Regions from separate parts of the Homo sapiens genome. Here region 2 is linked to region 1. A link means that fine-mapping ties the variant in region 1 to the expression of a gene that starts in the linked region. Tissue or cell type: whole blood. Region 1 holds a variant in brackets; the other region holds the start of a gene. All regions are shown on one strand. Distances are from middle to middle.

Region 1 (2,770 bases):
TAATTATTTGGTTAAGAATAAACCATTTAATTTAAGCATGTGAATAATAGAGAATTCTTGCAGTGGAAAAACAATTTAACCTAACATAGATTTTACAAGCACTGAATTGAGCATGTATTGATTCTGATTTAATAGTTTTCATATTTTGGTACCATACTAATACTAACACTAACACTAATGCTAATTACTATTACATTCATTTCTCATATATCTCTGTGTACCCTTGAGAAAGCCCTTCACACAGGCTGTGGGCCTTCCACAAGCCAGGATAAAATAGCCCCAGTCTTGAGGTAACAAGTTCAAGACCATACTGGCCATTTATAGCCAGTCTCTAAACTAAAAAAGTCTTGAATTTATTAATTTCCCTCTAAGTGAGCTCTTTTAAGGCAAATTACATAAGCTCAACGTTTCTAGTAGTTAAACAGAAGCATTAATGACCTACCTACCTCAGGGGACTATTGAGAAGATACTGATATGAACATTTGGTAAGCAAGAAGCTTGTCTCTTCCCTGCTCCTCCTGATGCCCACAAATAATCAGGATAGCAAAGTGCACAGTGTCACAGTATGTCTCTTCTCCCTGCTGCTGCCATATCCAGCTGGTCACAAGTCCTATTAATGTCCTTGTTCATGGTTTCCAATCACACTGCCATTAACCTAGTTTAGGTCCTTAGTAATTCATGCCTGGACTCAACCGACCCAATTTCTAAGTTACCAAGACCTCTTCCCACCTTTACTTTTCTAAAACCACTCTAATCATGTTATTTAATCTCAAAGCTCCACCTTGGTCTCTGGGGACCATCTACTGCCTCCTGGTGTGGACTGCCTGCAGAGCTGGCTGCTCCCTGGCTTTTCCTGCCTTTTCTCCTGCTGCCTTTCTCCCTGCAGCATCCCGTCTGCCAGGCGCCCTTGGACATGCCCTGTTTTCATTTTAGATTATCTTCCTAATCTCTTTCCATTCTGTTCCCTCTCCCAAATCTTTCTATCTACGGAAATCCTGTCCTTCTAAGAGAAGATATGGCACAGAAAAGAAAATATAAATGGCCACTTGTGTGGAAAAAATGCTCAATCTCACTAGTAGTCAAGTAATGGAAAATATATCATGTGTTGCTCATAATATTGTTAAAAAAGATGATACTTCTTTCTAGGAGAAAGTGGAGGAGGAGAAGAAGGGGAAGGAGATGAAGATGAAGAAGACAAAGGTGGCTAGTAAAGTTTAATATTTGAAAG[G/A]CTAATAATGTTTAATACTTAAAAGACCATCACAATCGGCAGGAATGACGGAGAATGTCTGCGCTCTTTTTCAAAAACAATTTTATGGTGCCTACTTGGCTTCAAAGGTGTGCCTATCTTTAGACCCAACAACCTTTCTTCTAATAACCGTTCTTACAGAACTAAGAAGGGCAGTATCAAAGATATACGTACAGGATGCTTACTGCCACACAAAATTACAAAGGGAGATAAATGAAAACCTAGAAGTACAGACAGATAGACTAATGACAAAGAATGTTTCCTAGAACCATTTTTGATTCTTGTGGGTGCAGGATCTCTAACCCAAACCCACACCTATCCAACTTCCACATAGCCCCCAGATACCCCATTGTACCCAGCATAAGACCCTGTAGCACTGTCCCCAGCCATCTATCCACACACACCCACTAAAGAGTTGCCCATCAGAACCCTTCTCCCTCAGCCTCTGCTGCCTCTAACGCTGGCACGAGTACAAGCAGAACAGGGACCTCACATATCTGTCTCACTAGTTGTTTTCTGAGCTAGTTCAAGGATGAGTTGAATATATTTTACATCCACCTAGAAGAATGTCCTAGATACATTTCAAGTGAAAATTTCAAGTCACTATGATATGCAGAACATGAAGTCATTTTTGTATGGGCAAAGATAATAGTAATAGTTGTAATTAGTAGTGGTAGTAATTATTATTAGTAGTAGTAACAACACAATGCTTACCAGGTTCCTGGCATTACTACACGTGATTTCTGTAACTTATTTAATGCTGACAATAAACCTATGAGATATTTACTATCACTATCCCCATTTTATGGATGGGCAAAACAAAAACTCCAAAATCATAATGCCCAGAGAATTAATTATTTGCTCAAAATCACACAGGTGCTAAGTGGTGGTGGATCTAGGATTCAAATCCAGGAAACCCAGTGCTGGAGTCCATACTCTTAAGCACCAGGAATACATAAGTACCTGTTACATACCAGGCTTTTATATGCATTGAAAATCTATGGAGGCCACATTTCAACATAATCACATTGATTACATTAGGAAGGAAAGAGGTGAACCATTTTCTCTGTCTTTATACAAATCTGCATCCTTTGAATTGTTGTATGTATTGCTACTACAATGAGAAACAACACCGAGTTAATACAAATTCAGTTAAGCATGTAAACACACATTAAAAGATTAGGTACAGTTTTTACATGATGAGGTAGACTGATCAACTGATCCTGGCTCACTGGACCTAAAAGGTCTTCCTCCATCTCTGATCAGGTTGTGCATCTGCCCATCTATAAATTTGATTTCCTCCTCTATGGGGGTCCCTTGAACTCTGCAGCTGGTTGTGTCCCCACTTTAACCAGCTATCAGTGACTCCATCACTTGACTTTTGAACCAAATGCTCCCTCTCTATGCCCGAATCCATGTTTGTCCTCCAAGCTTGGTGAGCTCAAATGAATAAAACCTGGGGGAAATGTCCTTTCATTTCTCTCCCTAACCCCTCCCATGCTTCCTGCTTTCTTTCTCCTGGGC
Region 2 (2,770 bases), 23 kb after region 1:
CATACACCTCCAAAAGTAGAAACAATCCAATGTCCATCAGCAGTAGAATGGATAAATTATGTACATTTACACCTTAAATGACGAAAACGAAAATGGAAGGAAGCATGAAAGATGAATCTATAAAACTTAAGAATACGTACAGGATAATGTCATTAATATAATGTCATTATAATGAGAAAGCCAATACATATGTTTTAGGAATACACACACAAATATGGTAAAACTAAAAAGAAAAGCAAGGGATTCATTAAATTAAGACAAAAATCACGAAAGATGTCACATCTCAGAGAATGGAGGAGAATGGACCATGGGCATCAGTTGGGACTCATGGGCTTCTAAGGTACTGTGACGCCCTATTTCTTGACCCAAGGAGATGGTCAGGCATTCGTTTCATTATTTTTTAGACCATTCTGAGATATTTCATTTACTTTTTATTCAACATTTTAAAACAAAGTATTGAAACCAATTCATCAACAAATCACTAGTTTGGAGGATGAAAGTGATGGACCGATGGTTGGCTGGTCAGCTAGACAGACACATTCTGTCCTTTACGTCTAGTTCGAGCTGTACTTCTTCTAAATTTCCATGATTATCCAATTGGCAAAGATCTTTTTCTCCTGTACTTAAGGCCTTCTTCCGTTGCAGGTTGGGCCAAACTAGCGGCCAGCTCTCGGCTGTTTACCAGGGAACTGTATCACCCAGCACTTGCTGCTTCAGGCCAAATGCATTCCAGACTAACATTCAGCCTGAATCCCCGCGCCGCTCTCACCGCCACCCCTCCCCAGGTCCCTTCCCCCACCACAAACCCACACTGCGCCCGTGGGCGCCTAGAGCACTGGGGTGGATGAGAACTTCCACCTGGGCTTAACGGAGACAAGCTAGCCTAGAAGAATGCAAGCCCCCAGCTGGCGAGATCAAATCGCCTCGAGGGTTCCTGCTAGCTCAGATCTTAATGGCTCCTTGCGGAGCAAAAAACAAATCCTACGAAAATAGGGGGGGTCATCGCCTCCTGCCCAGCAGAGGGCATAACAATGCGGCGAGAATGAAATAGGCACCGAGCTGCAGAGAAAAATCATCAACGGGGTAGAGACGAAGGAAGGGATCCTCGGTGGAACGGCTCTATCACCTGGGGGCGCGCGCAGAGGCCGCAATCCACGCCCGGCCCTCCCCAGACGCTAAACGTCGCACCCCGCCCACCGCTCCCCGCCCCGGACACTAACCCGGGGCCCAGGCCTCGGTCACCGCGGGCCTCTCCTGGTCCAGAGTCTACGCTGAACCCCACTCACTGTTTGCCCCGCTGTTCCCTGCAGCGCGGGTTCGGGGCAGTAGCAACCTGCTAGGAGCGGGAGGCGGTTGTTCCCAGGAGGAAGCAGCTTCTCCGCCCAGGAGGCAAAGGGCAGCGGGCTCGAAACTACAGGACTTGGAAAGTCTTAGGCGGAGACTGCGGGGGTGGGGGGTGGTGAGGAGGGGCCTTCCAGGGAGCTGATTGGTCGACGCGGACGGGGGCGGGACTTGGCCGGCGCCGTCCCTCCCCTAGACCTCAGAGGCCCTGCCCGCAGATGTGGCGCCAAATCCCGGATGCAGGCCTAGGCGCCAGCCCAGGAATATAGGGAGCAAATTGTTAAGAACAAAACAAAACAAAACAAAAGTGAGAATACTTCTGAACAAGTGACGGCCTTGATAAATAGCGAGAGATGTTTATATAAAATAATACAGGACTATTTTTAAGGACGAGTGAAATCTATCGGTTCTAGCTATAGTTTTTAATTAAAAAAGCAAGTTGTATTAAAATGGAGAGTAGGATCTCTCTTTCCCCCTCCCCTCCCCTCCCCTCCCCTCCCCTCCCCTCCCCTCCCCTCCAGGGGGAGGGTCTGCTTCTGCCACCCAGGCTGGAGTGCAGTGGTGCCATCACAGCTCACTGCAGCTTCAACCTCCCAGGCTCAAGCGATCCTTCCACCTCAGAGGCTGGGACCACAAGTGCGCCGCCACCACGCCCAGCTAACTTTTTGATTTTTTGTTAGAGACAGGGTTTTACTTTGTTGCCCAGGCTGGTCTCGAACGCCAGGGCTCAAGTGATCCTCCCGCCTCGGCCTCCCAAAGTGCTGGGATCACAGGCCTGAGCCACTGCATCAGCTTTAGCATTACATTCGTGTATGAAGAAGACATGCTGCATGTGCTTCTATAAGAGGCGGGGCTAACGGTGGAGAAATTGTCTATTGATTCTTACCTTCACAACCACTGAATTGTTTTTTTTTAAACCAATACATTGTTTTTATAAGTTTAATAAAACAGTAAGGCGTTGAGAATGTTACTAACCAATCAACAGATGACAGATATTGGGCATGAGGGAGGAAAGAAAGAAAGGAGTAGCAGGGAAAAAGCCTGGACTTTGAAGCCACCACATCCTCTGCTTACAAGTTGGGCAGTGTATTCATTGCTAAGGCTGCTGTGATAAATTTTCACACATTTAGTGGCTTAAAACAACACAGATTTACTACTATCTTCCAGGACTGTAGGTCCTGGAAGTCCAGCACAGGTCTCACTGGGCTATCATCCAGGTGTAGGCAGGGATGTGTTTCTCTTTGCAGGATCTAGGGACAAATCTATTTTCCTTGCTTTTTCCAGCTTCCAGAGGCTCCCGCATTCCCTGGCTTGCAGCCCTTTCCTTCATCTTCAAAGTCAGCAATCTCATGGCTCCAGCCTCTGCTTCTGTGTCACATCTCCTTCTTTGAGTCTCCTGCTTCCTTCTTTCACTTAGAAGGACCTTGTG

What was found. PIP is the estimated chance that this variant, and not a neighbour inherited with it, causes the effect.
Region 2: TCAF1 starts here. The variant in region 1 is fine-mapped to the expression of TCAF1 in whole blood (INTERVAL, PIP 0.94).

What each region holds. Positions count from the first base shown.
Region 1 is chr7:143,878,196-143,880,965 of GRCh38, forward strand. All of the region lies in intron 1 of TCAF1 (TRPM8 channel associated factor 1), which reads right to left. Among named protein-coding and RNA genes, the nearest start is that of TCAF1, 23 kb to the right of the region's middle. The variant G/A (reference allele first, on the strand shown) is at 1,229.
Region 2 is chr7:143,900,741-143,903,510 of GRCh38, forward strand. TCAF1 (TRPM8 channel associated factor 1) reads right to left here and starts at 1,436. Exons shown (of 9, transcript NM_014719.3): 1 at 1,221-1,436. It overlaps LOC105375549 (a long non-coding RNA gene), which reads left to right. Exons shown (of 3, transcript XR_007060574.1): 3 at 1-1,213. RefSeq lists enhancers at 404-941, 617-666 and a silencer at 1,457-1,596.